2 linked regions of the Homo sapiens genome follow. The protein of the gene in region 2 interacts with the protein of the main gene of each other region in a biochemical or structural test. Each region holds a gene or a part of one and is shown on either strand. Other genes may lie near its edges.

Evidence for each region. The genes of interacting proteins can lie anywhere in the genome.
Region 1: of the proteins of OTUD6A (region 2) and RPS6KB1, one has a biochemical effect on the other in vitro, tested with the Homo sapiens proteins (one study listed by BioGRID).

What each region holds. Positions count from the first base shown.
Region 1 is NC_000017.11:59,910,121-59,917,149, reverse strand, and holds part of RPS6KB1 (ribosomal protein S6 kinase beta-1), read right to left. Parts: intron 6,589-7,029; coding exon 6,539-6,588; intron 4,467-6,538; coding exon 4,346-4,466; intron 2,516-4,345; coding exon 2,447-2,515; intron 1-2,446. UniProt on the Homo sapiens protein: Serine/threonine-protein kinase that acts downstream of mTOR signaling in response to growth factors and nutrients to promote cell proliferation, cell growth and cell cycle progression.
Region 2 is NC_000023.11:70,058,342-70,064,696, reverse strand, and holds OTUD6A (OTU domain-containing protein 6A), read right to left. Parts: upstream 2,241-6,355; 5' UTR 2,173-2,240; coding exon 1,306-2,172; 3' UTR 518-1,305; downstream 1-517.

The DNA.
Region 1 (7,029 bases), on a different chromosome or scaffold from region 2:
GAGACCCTATCTCAAAAACTAACTAAATAAAAATAATAATCAAAGTCAAAGCAACACACATCACTATAAAAACTTAGATCAGAAATAAAGAGAAAATCTTAAATATTTCCACAGAAAAAATAGGCCATGTGTAAACGACTGGGAATCAGAATGCCAAAGCACTTCAACAGAAACTCTCAAGAATAGAAGAAAACTGAGCAAAATTCTAAGTGAAAATAATTTTCAACTCCAATAACATAAACAATCAAGTAAATAAAAATGTAAAGAAATTCTCAAATATGCAATATGGATATATTTTTATTATAAATGTATCTTTATATACCTTGTCTGAGGGAGCCACTAGTATAGTGTCACCAAAACAAGGACATAAACTAAGAAAAAGGGAAAAAATGAAGATATGGGATCCAGGAAACAAAAGATCCAACACTGAAGGAGCCAAGAGGATTCCAGGGTTGTGGTGAAGAAAGAGTCCAGTCATAACAGTTGTGACTAAAGAGCTACCACTCCAGATGGGAACAGGTGGATAGAAAGTTCCTAAGATATGCCTCTGGGAAATAAATGGAACTGATAGATTATCTTATAAGCCTGATCAAAGAACATTAGACTGAAAGGTGTTTTACAAAGTTGTTGGAAGACATCAGAGGACAATAGTAGATTCAAAGAAAGCAAAACAAAATGAGAGGATGAGGATAAAGGAGGGTGAAGTAAACAAGAAACAAATCCTTAACTCGCATAAAAGAAAGTTAATACTGCCAGGCTCGGTGGCTCACGCCTGTAATCCCAACACTTTGGGAGGTCAAGGCGGGCCGATCCCCCGAGGTCAGGAGTTCGACACCAGCATGCCAATATGGCGAAACCGCATCTCTACTAAAAATACAAAAATTAGCCGGGTGTGGTGGTGGGCGCCTGTAATCCCAGACACTCAGGAAGCTGAAGCAGAGGAATCGCTTTAACCTGGGAGGTGGAGGTTGCAGTGAGCTGAGATCACGCCACTGCACTCCAGCCTGGGCAACAGAGTGAGGCTCCGTCTAAAAAAAAAAATTGAAAACTGCTGAATTAAAAAGATAGCAGTTGGCTGGGCATGGTGGCTCATGCCTGTAATCCCAGCACTTTGGGAGGCCAAGGCGGGCAGATCACCTGAGTTCGAGACCAGCCTAACCAACATGGAGAAACCCCATCTCTACTAAAAATACAAAATTAGCCGGGCGTGGTGGCACATGCCTGTAATCCCAGCTACTAGGGAGGCTGAGGCAGGAGAATCACTTGAACCTGGGAGGCGGAGGTTGTGGTGAGCCGAGATCACTCCACTGCACTCCAGCCTGGGCAACAAGAGCAAAACTCTGTCACAATAAAAAAAAAAAAAAAAAAAAAAAAGATAGCAGTAGGCCAGGCGCAGTGGCTCGTGCCTGTAATCCCAGCAGTTTGGGAGGCCGAGGCAGATGGATCACCTGAGGTCAGGAGTTCGAGACCAGCCTGGCCAATATGGTGAAACCCCGTCTACACTAAAAATCCAAAAATTAGCCAGGCGTGGTGGTAGGCGCCTGTAATCCCAGCTATTAGGGAGGCTAGGGCAGGAGAATCACTTGAACCTGGGAGACAGAGGTTGCAGTGAGCTGAGATTGTACAACTGCACTCCAGCCTGGACAACAGAGTGAGAGTTCATCTCAAAAAAAAAGAGATGGCAGTACATGCTTATTACTTAGAAATAAGGAGATCAGAAACAGTGAAGAGTTACCTCAGCAAAGAATTGCAAGAGCTCTCTTTTCCACACTCACCAAGCAGAAATAAAAATAGGAATAACAGTAATGAAACATACCTCACATTCTAAAAAGTATTGCAACTGTGTTAGAAATACATTTTTTGCCGGGTGCGGTGGCTCATGCCTGTAATCCCTGCACTTTGGGATGCCGAGGCAGGTGGATCACTGAGGTCAGGAGATCAAGACCATCCTGGCCAATATGGTGAAACCCCGTTTCTATCAAAAATACAAAAAAGTAGCTGGGCGTGGCAGCATGCACCTGTAGTCCCAGCTACTCGGGAGGCTGAGGCAGGAGAATTACCTGAACCCGGGAGGTGGAGGTTGCAGTGAGCCGACATCGCACCACCGCACTCCAGCCTGGGCGACAGAGCGCGACTACGTCTCAAAAAAAAAAAAAAGAAAAGAAAATAAATACATTTTTTCTGTAAGAGACTGGGTCTTACTACATTGCTCAGGCTACCCTTGAACTCCTAAGTTCAAGCAATCCTCCTGACTCAGTCTCCCAAGTAGCTGGGACCACAGGTGTGCACCACTGTACCTGGCTTGAGATACATTTTTTTGACTGCAAATTTTAGGCCAAAATGTTACAACAATTAAAAATATGATATGATTGCTTCCCAGCCTTTTGGCTGAGATCAAGTGTAAAAATATGGTGTGTGAGGACTAAAAAGGGGGAGTGGAAATCACCTTTTTAAGCACCTTCATGGCAAATATTTTCCCAGTATTTGCTCCTGTTACTTTTCGTACTTGAAAAACCTGGATTAAAAAAAAGTGTGTGTTATTCAAAGGCAAACTATGTCAGGCATACTCCCTTAATTCCTAGTTATAAGAAACATATGCCACAGCAGTTTATATTATAAAAACTATGTGCAAAAATGATCAGCTAAAAGAACAGACCACATTAATGATCATGACTTTCCTGTTTGTTCTGCTGCCATCTGGTGGTAATGTTGGACAATGACCATCTAATAATAAACACTGTTACTTTATATTAATATATAAAATCCTACTTAGAACAAGCTATAAACAGTGTTCCCAGAGGCATAATACCACCTTAAAAATTATAAAATATTTCATAAATTTCTTTCAAGGTTGCTTGCCACTGCCCTTGCTTCACATAAAACTATTTAAAAATAGTTGGCAGTAAAAATTATAAAATATTTCATAAATTTCTTTCAAGGTTGCTTGCCACTGCCCTTGCTTCACATAAAACTATTTAAAAATAGTTGGCAGGAAATTACTGTTTACCTATTACTTAAAATAGTTTGTACTAATACTTGGCCCTCTGAATCTACAGGTTCAGCAGCCGTGGATTCAACCAACCGCAGAATGAAAATATTTGGGGGAAAAAACAATAAACAATACAAACAATAAAAAATAACACAAATATGGCCAGGTGAGGTGGCTCACAACTGTAAACCCGGCACTTTGGGAGGCCAACTCGGGTGGATCACCTGAGGTCAGGAGTTCAAGACCAGCCTGGCCAACATGGTGAAACCCCATCTCTACTAAAAATACAAAAATTAGCCGGATGTGGTGGCGCACACCTGTAATCCCAGCTACTCGGGAGACTGAGGCAGGAGAATCGCTTGAATCTGGAAGGCAGAGGTTGCAGTGAGCTGAGATCGTGCCACTGCACTCCAGCCTGCGGGAAAGAACGAGACTCTGTCTCAAAAATCATAAAAAATAAAATAAAAAATTAAGCATATGGGAGGATGTGTGTAGCTTATATGCAAATACTATGCCATTTTATATAAGGCACTTGAGCGTCGGCAGATTTTGTTATCTGCAAAGGTCTTGGAATCAGTTCTCCCTTACCCCTCCCCCATACTGAAAGACAACTATAAACATTTTCATGCAACACCTAAAACATGTGAGATTCAAAGTGCATGTGTTGCACATTCAGGATGATTAGAAATTACAATGTGTTCTTAAGCATAAGAATAGGCTACAAATGTCTGCTTTGCAAAAATTAACACTACACAATAGCAAAAATAATTCTTAAAACTTAATACTAACCAAGTTATTATCTAAATTATTTTGATAAGAGAATAGTTTGGTAAAAAGTTTTGTGGGCAGAACTCATAAAAGTGACGTCTTAAGTTGTAAAGCCTTGGGCAAAACTGTGAAACTAAATAGTTTTCTTCCCCCTTTTTATATTCCTTCAGCTTCCCCAATTCTATTGCTCCAGAAAACCAGTTGAGATTAAGGTCTCAGTAACAGATAACAACTCAGACTGCCATGTCTCTTGTAAGCAAGGAGGGCTTTATTTTTAAAGAGGATACCATTTAACCAAAGTAAAGAATGAACCCTTTAATAATAGACTTTGCCTGGTACAGTTGTCTATTTATGTATTCTATGAACCTTGACTGAGTACCTATTATGTGCCAGGCTTTTACATGTGTGGTGGTATGAAAAGAAGGGAAAACTGAACTTCTGTACATCCCTCAAACATACCAGCTAAGTGGTCATGATCACATCCTTTGCTGATAGCTGACAAAGACTGAAGATGACTGCTGGAACCAGGGCATAAAAATCAATCTATTCAAGACAGACAACAGCTCTCATTTCAAAAATATTGCCTACCTTTCCATAGCCCCCTTTACCAAGTACCCGAAGTAGCTCAAAACATTCTGGTCTGATTTTTTCTGGCCCTCTGTTCACACTAGTTTCTGAGATTTCAAATTTCTCACAATGTTCCATGCCACTGGGAAGAAAAGCAAAACCAAAAATAAATTTGCAAAAAGTTAAATTACTTTCAGCATATAGTCAAGAAAAAGGAGACAGAGAAATGTAATCTAAGTAAGTAAAAGTAAAAAAGTACATGACACCAAATTATTTGTGCTCTAAACAAACAGAACAGCAGGTCAAGAGGAGGGTGGCCTGATAATCGTTTGCCTCCTTGTTCATAGAATGGGCAATCAATTATTTACTTATTTTTATAATTGTTTATTTTATGCATAAAGGGGTACTATGGTTTTTCATTGGGTAGATGCCTTGGATAATCCATTCAAGTAAGATCACTTAGTCCAACTTAATGAAATCTATATCCTTCGTTTACTGATAGAAACACTGGCGCACATATTGAGGCCGTATTTCTGGATCAGACCTTGCCAGTTTGAGCAGACACAACAAGAGCAAGAACCCTGATTGAATTTTCATGGGTGACTCCAATACAGCTGCTGGTGACCCATCTTGCTCTTAGGAGTGCAACAAAGTAAAAGAAGACAATTATTTATTTTCATAAGCATCAAGCACCCCAAAGCTAAGGTAAGTTAGAAAAAGTTCATTAAGTTGACAAAGAAAAAAAGTCTTGCAGTTATTCAAATTTACTTCATTGAAAATATCTATGAAATTAGGTATTATCCAACCTCATTTGGCAATGTCAGCAGAAAATCAGGGATCTTTCCAAAACTACCCAATTAGTTCACATCATAGTACAAAACTTCTTCTCTGTATCTGTTTTTTCAAGTTATTAGCTTGATTTAAAGAATCCAATGGGCGTGGTGGCTCATGCCTGTAATCCCAGCACTTTGGGAGGCTGAGGTGGGCGGATCACTTGAGGTCGAGAGTTCAAGACCAGCCTGGCCAACATGGTAAAACCCTGTCTCCACTAAAAATACAAAAATTCCAGCCTAGCCAACATGGTGAAACCCCGTCTCTATTAAAAATACAAAAATTAGCTGGGCGTGGTGGCAGGAACCTATAATCCCAGCTACTCAGGAGGCTGAGGCAGGAGAATCACTTGAACCTGGGAGGCAGAGGTTGCAGTGGGCCGAGATCATGCCATCACACTCCAGCCTGGGAACAAGAGCGAGACTTTGTCTCAAAAAAAAAAAAAAAAAAAAAAAACCCAACAAAAATTAGCCAGGTGTGGTGGTGCGCTCCTGTAGTCCCAGCTACTTGGGAGGCTGAGGCAGGACAATCGCTTGAACCCAGGAGGTGGAGGTTGTGGTGAGCCGAGATTGTGCCACTGCACTCCAGCCTGGGTGACAGAGGGAGACTCCATCTCCAAAAAAATAAAAATAAAGAATCCAAAAGGGGTAGCAATTGTCTCTGTCATTTAAATGCTTTCTACATGAGTGATCTATCTTCTCATTCTCCTCCTACACTAATGCTTTTTACTTGAGAGTACAATACAGAGCAGATTAATCACCATACTCACCTAATGGAGCTTGTCTAAAATGACTTAAGATTACATGAATTTCTTTTTTGTTGTTGCTGTTGAGACGGAGTCTCGCTATGTCGCCCGGCTAATTTTTGAATTTTAAGAAGAGACGGGGTTTCGCCATGTCGGCCAGGCTGGTCTCGAACTCCTGATCTCAAATGACCCGCCCACCTTGGCCTCCCAAACTGCTGGGATTACAGGTGTGAGCCACTGTGCCCAGCCGGATTGCATGAATTTCTGTTTGAATGACTGTATGAATTTCTGTTTGTATATTTAAGCAAAACAGAAAGCATTTGACTTTTTGAGGCATTTCTACAAATTTTTCTGTAAGAAAAGATTAAAACTGTGGCTCTTTAAACTAACAACTCAGATTCATATTTAGTACTCTGAATCTGAATTAATATCTTTTCCTCAAAATCCATACATAATCTCAAAACTCTGATAGGTTATATTGATCAGATTTTGGTGCCAAATTCAATACATCGAGTTGATAAATATGACTACATATTTAAGAACAGGTTACAGGAATCACATGATTGCTACGAAATAGAACTGATAAAACCTACTTGTAAGAAAGACAACACAATGAAAATCTCTTCATATAAACTTACAGTTCATATGGTCCAACTCCCCCATGGTCCATGCTTTCATTTAACTGACCCTGAAAAATATGTTAAAAGTTTCAGAAATAATCTAATAAACATAAAATTTAAAGGTTTAATTCTTTGTCTCATAACTGAAAGAGAATGAATGAAATAAACCAGCCTAACAATTCTCTTATACTTCAACAACAGGCAAATATGGTAATGAACAAAACACAGTACACAAACAACACTATGGGAATTTCACTCTAAATTATTTTACAAATAGAGATGAGGTCTTTCTATGTTGCCCAGACTGGAATGCAGTCAATAGCTATGAAGGGGTATGATCATAGCATACCAGAGCCTTAAACTCCTCAAGTGATTCTTCTGCCTCAGCGTTCCAAGTAGCTGGGACTATAGGCACCCGGGTTTTTTTTTTTTTTTTCTTTTTTGAGATGGAGTCTCACTCTGTCACCCAGACTGGAGTGCAGCGGTGCCATCTCAGCTCACTGCAACCT
Region 2 (6,355 bases):
AAGATAATGAAACGTATCAACTATTTGAATAAAGTCCTATCTCTTCCTACCTTTAGTAAAGGAAATTAAGTTCAGATCTTTCACATCTTAGAGTAAACCTTATCTAGCCTATCAGTTTATCTAAATTTACTTTATCTATTTAACAGATTTACCTTACATGTTTTAACAAATGCTGTTATTTAGAATTAGCAAACATGGGAGAAACTAAAATTAATTAGGAACCACACAAGTTTTGATGAAAAGAAAACAAAACAAAGTACTAGCGGATCTCTTGTTCATAACTTGAGACATCTCCTGAGTAGTCTAGCTTAAGTAAATAGCAAACCATGGCAATCTTTCCCCCCAAAACTCAGCAAAAGGCCTTCACAAGGCATTTTGATCACATAAACTCCAATTTTGTCTAAGTAATCCAAGACATTCATAGGAAAACCTGAAGACTCCCCGAGCTAGTCTACTAGATTTATTTTTCCCAGAACACATGAAACTTAACATTTCCTTTTTTTCTTTTTTTTTTTTTGGAGACGGAGTCTCGCTGTCTTCCATGCTGGAGTGCAGTAGTACGATCCCGGCCCACTGCAGCCTCCGCCTCCCGGGTTCAGTTGATTCTCCTGCCTCAGCACCCCAAGTAGCTAGGATTACAGGCCCCCGCCAACCTGCCTGGCTAATTTTTCATTTTTTTGAGACGGAGTCTCACTGTCTTCCACGCTGGAGTGCAAAGGCACGATCTCGGCTCACTGCAACCTCCGCTTCCCGTCAAGCGATTCTCCTGCCTTAGCCTCCCGAGTATCTGGGACTACAGGTGCCTGCCACCACGCCCGGCTAATTTTTGTATTTTTTGTAGAGGTGGGGTTTCACCATGTTGGCCAGGCTGGTCTCGAACTCCTGACCTCGTGATCCGCCCGCCTCGGCCTCCCAAAGTGCTGGGATTACAGGCGTGAGCCACCGCGCCCGGCCAATATTTCCATTTTTGTGGTGAAGTTATACGCAACATGACCAAATCTTAGTTGGTGAGGGAGGTAAAAGACCCTTAAGGGCAAGAAGAGGTTAGAACTTTCAAATTTATGCCCCTCTGGTGGTGCAATGCAGAGATTTCCCTCATATTTCCGGGGAATTTCCCTCGAATTTCGTTTCCCACCCTGTGAAAGCAGCAAGGTTAGGAAAGCGGGGGCGGGGCGGGGGCGGGTAGTTTTGATTAAAAGGAAGGAAAAGAAAAACAGAGAAAAGCAAAAGGGGAAAATAAACTGAGCCTACTGAGGAGATGCGGCGACGGCGACAGTTTCCCGGGGCTGCTCAGCGCCTTGGGGCCTACAGGAGACGCGGGAGCACGCCCCCGGCGGCGCCGGCCTCGAGCGGTGTCACGGAGTTGTAGTGCTCGCCGAGGCTGTAGGCATAGCGCAGGTAGACCAGGATGATCGGCTTCTTGACGTACTCCTCCCCGATGATCAAGGTGGGCGAGTCGGCCTGGATCACCTCGATGGGGGTCTTCAGGACGTGCGACAGGGCCCTCAGCTCCAGCTGGCCTCCCCATGCCGTGGTGCGCACGATGTTGTCGCAGTAGATCATGAAGTCGTCGTAGCCGAAGGAGTCGCTGGTCTCGGGGTTGCTGAAGAAGGGCAGGAACTCGTCGACGTGCTTCTTCATGTAGCTGGCGGTGCGGCAGCGCAGCATCTCCACAGACACGCTGAACACCAGCTGGTCTTGGATGGCGCGGTACATGCAGTGGCCGTCGGCCGGGATCGCTTTCATCTCCAGACCCCTGGCTCCCAGGATGGCGGCGAGCTTCTCCTCCTCCTCGCGCTTGAAGCCGGCCAGGTGCTCCGACATCTCAGCCTGGAAGATGCTCTCCTGGCGCTCCCTCTCCTCGGACTCCATTCTTTCTCTCTTTCTGTGGGCTTTGGAGGAGCGGGGAGGCCGGTTTTCCAGATTCATCTTGGCCAGGTCTTCGACGACAGATTCAATGCTACTGTCGTCTTGGAACTTCTCCAGCTCCTGCCGGTGCTTCTGAGCCATCTCGGCCTCCATGCGGGCCACGTCTTGGAGCAACTGCTTTCTTTTCGTCTTGTCGGTCTTGGGGACCGAGTTTTTTAAGCTCCGGATCTGGGCCTGCAGCTCCTGCCTCTCGCGTTGGTGGCGGCGCAGTATGCGCTGCTGTTCACTCTTCGGATCATCCATGATGTTGAATGGCAAGCGGGAGTTGAAATTTGCTGGCAGTTCAAGTACCGAACAGACCAGAAGTCCTCAGCCTGTCCTAACGGTCGCTCTCTTTCACCTCACCGGCTCTAACCGCCGCTCTAGGCTCACCTCAGCCTCCGCTTCCCCTCCCCCATTCGCATTCTTCTCTGCCTTTGGTCACTGTGTCTCCATGGCCACGCCCCCGCAAGTGCTAGGCCACTTGCTGGGCCACCCGCAAATGCCCAGTGCTAGGATTGGCTGTTGGGAGACCGGAAGTATGAGCCCATTGGACCCCACAGCAAAGGTTTTTGGCGGGATTCAAATATGGCCTTCCTGCAATGTGTGTGGCAGTTGGGCCTGTAGAGTCTTTCGCTGATTGAGAGCCGACTTCATTTCCAAGTCTGCACACAATGCAGGCAGTAGCCATGCCTGACAGCCACATGACAGATACTACACCGCTGAATGTGCTCTAACCCTGGACTTGGCATTGCCCCTACTGTTGAGGAAGCAGTGCGTTTTTCTCCAGTCTTTCAGGTCCCTTCACCAGGGAACCATTAACTTGTGCATCAGAACAAGGACATTTCCTTACATTCCTGCAAACACAGTCCTTTCAGTTTACTCTTTTTTTGAGGGGGGGGCGCGGGGAACGGAGTCTCGCTCTGTCGCCCAGGCTGGAGTGCAATGGTGCAATCTCAGCTCACTGCAACCTCTGCCTCCCAGGTCCAAGCGATTCTCCTGCCTCAGCCTCCCGGGTAGCCGGGACTACAGGCGCCTGCCACCACGCCCGGCTAATTTTTGTATTTTTAGTAGAGACGAGGTTTCGCCGTGTTGGCCAGGCTGGTCTTGGAACTCCTGACCTCAGGTGATTTACTCGCCTCGGCCTCCCAAAGTGCTGGCATGAGCCACTGTGCCCAGTCACAAGTTTTTATTTTAGCCATTTTGATAAGTGTGAAGTTCCCTGATGGCTAATGATGTTCCTTTTTTCATGTGCTCATTTGTCATCTATGCCATATCCTTTTCAGTAAAATGTTTATGTCATTTGCCTATTTTCTCTCTCTTTTTTTTGGGGGGGGTGGAGTCTAGCTCTGTCACCGAGGGTGGAATGCAGTGGCGTGATCATGGCTCATTGCAGCCTCAAACTCCTGGGCTCAGGCTCAGGTGATCCTCCTGCCTCAACATCCTGAGTAGCTGGGACTACAGGCACCACCATACTTGGCTAATTTTGGGGAATTTTTTTTTTTTTTTTTTTTTTGCCAGATGCGGTGGCTCACGCCTGTAATCCCAGCACTTTGGGAGGCCAAGGTGGGAGGATGTCTTGAGGTCAGGAGTTCCAGACCAGCCTGGGCAACATGGTGAAGCCCTAACTCTACTAGAAATACAAAAATTAGCCAGGTGTGGTGGTGTGTGCCTGTAGTCCCAACTACTCCTGGGGGCTGAGGTGGGAGGATAGCTTGAGCCTGGGAAGCAGAAGTTGTAGTGAGCCAAGATAGCGGCACTGCACTCCAGTCTGGGCTCAAGTGGTCCTCCACCTCTGCCTTCCAAAGTGCTGGGATTACAGATGTGAGACACCATGCTCAGCCCTTCATTTGCCTATTTTCTTTCTCTCTCTCTCACTCTCTTTCTTCCTCTCTCTCTCTCTCTTACTCTCTTTCTTCTTCCTTCCTTGGTTTCCTTCCTTCCTTTTTTTTTCTTTTTTTTTTTGAGACGGAGTCTTGCTCTGTCACCCAGGCTGGAGTGCAGTGGCATGATCTCGGCTCACTGCAGCCTCCAGCTTCTGGGTTCAAGCAAGTCTCATGTCTCAGCCTCCTGAGTAGCTGGGACTACAGGCGCACACCACCACACCCGGATACTTTTTGTATTTTTAGTAGAGACAGGGTTTCACCATGTTGGCCAGGCTGGTCTTGAACTCCTGAGTTCAAGCGATCCCCCTGCCTTGGCCTCTCAAAGTGCCGGGATGACTACACACACCACCATATCCAGCTAACTTTTTTTTTTTTTTTTTTTTTTTTACTTTTTGTAGAAACGGGGCCTCACTATGTTGCTCAGGCTGGTTTCGAACTCCTGGGCTCAAGCGAGCCTCTCACCTCAGCCTCCCAAAATGCTGAGATTACAGGCGTGAGCCACCGCGCCTGGCCAGGATTTTTGTAGGAATCGTGTTCAAGCTGAATATCAATTTGGGGAGAATTGACATCTTTACTATGTTGAGTCTTCCAGTCCTTGAACACCTGGGTATGTATCTCCATTTACGTAGATCTTCATTGATTTCTTTCAGTGACACTGCATGATTTTCAGCATATAAATCCTGTGCATATTTTGTTAGATTTACACTTAAGCATTTCTCTTTTTTTGAGTGATTGTAAATGGTATTGTATTTTTATAATGTGAACATTTACAATGTTCACATGGTCATTGCTAGTATATAAAAATACAATTGACTTTTTTTGTTTATCTTGTGTTCTGTGACCTTGCTTAACTAGCTAATTATTTCTAGGAGGTTTTTTCCCCCCTTGATTCCTTGGAATTTTCTATGTAGGCAATCATGTCATCTGTGAATAGGGACAGTTTTATTTCATCCTTTCCAGTAAGTATGTCTTTTATTTCCTTTTCTTGCCTTATAGTGCTGATTAGAACTTCCAGCACTATGTTGGATAAGAGTGGCAAGGGCAGACATCCTTGTTTTGATCTTGATTTTAGGAGGAAAAGAATTTCATCTTTCACTGATAAGTATGATGTTAGCTGTAGGATTTTGTAAATGTTATTTATCTAGTTGAGGCCTTTCCCATCTATTCCTATTTTTCTGAGAGTTTTTGACATGAATGGGTATTAAATGTTGTCAATGTTTTTTCTGTATTGATATGCCAATATGATTTTTCTTCTATAACCTATTAATATGATAGACTATAGTGATTGATTTTTAAGTATTAAGCTAGTCTTGCATTTCAGAAATCAACCTGATTTGGTCATAGTTTATCATTATTTTTATATGTTGAGGAATTCTTTTGGTAATTTAAAAAAGGATTAAAAAAAATCTATGTTCATGAGAGGTATTGGTCTGCAGTTTTCTTTTTTGGTACTGTTTTGTTTAGTTTTAGTGTCAGGGTAAATACTAACTTCACAAGAAGAGGAGGGAAGTGTTCCTTCCTCTTCTATTTTTTTGGAAAGAGATTGTGTAAAATCAGTAATAATTCTTCTTTAAACATTTGATAGGATTCTCCAGTGAAACCATCAGGGCCAAGAGATCACTTTCTTGGGAGTTTTAAAATTAAAAAAAAGTTTTCCTTAATAGGACTAATCAAATTATATATTTCATATTGAGTGAATTTTGGTAGCTTGTGTTTTTTGAGGAATTGGTCCATTTATTCTGAGTAGTCAAATTTATGTGTGCAGAATTATTTGTAGTATTCCATTTTTATTGTTTGATGTTGGGAGGATTTATAGTGGTATTCCCTGCTTTATTGGTAATTTGTGTTTCCTCTTTTGTTCTTTGTCAGTCTTGCTAAAGATTTGTCAATTTTATTGATCTTTTCAAAGAACTAGCATGTTGTCTTATTGATTTTCCCCATTGATTTTCTGTTTTAGATTTCATTAGTTTATGCTATTTATTATATTCTTCCTTCTGCTTGCTTTGGGTTTAGTTTGCTCTTCTTTTGCTAGGTTCTTGAGGTGGGAGCTTGAATAATTGCTTTCAGACTTTTTCTCTTTTTCCAAAGTATACGCTTAGTGATATAAACTTCCTTCTCAGTACTACTTTAACTGGTTCTCCCATGTTTTGATATGTTTAGTTTTCATTATCCTTCAGTTCAATGTACTTTTTGGTTTTCCTTGAGACTTTTTGGCCCATGGATTATTTACAAGTGAGTTATTAGCTTCCAAGTGTTTGTAGGTTTTCCTGTTATCTATTAATGATTTCTACTTTGATTCTGATATGGTTTGGGTCTGTGTCCCTGCCCAAACCTCATGTTGAATTGTAATACCCTCTGTTGGAGGCGGGGCCTGTGGGAGGTGATTGGATCATGGGGGGCAGATTTCTCATGAGTGGTTTAGCACCATCCTCTTGGTACTGTCCTTGAGATTGTGAGTGAGTTCCTGTGAAATCTAGTTGTTCAAAAGTGTGTGGCACCTCCCCTCATCTCTTTCTTGCTCCTTCCTCCATGATTGGAAGTGTCCTGAGATCTCCCTAAAA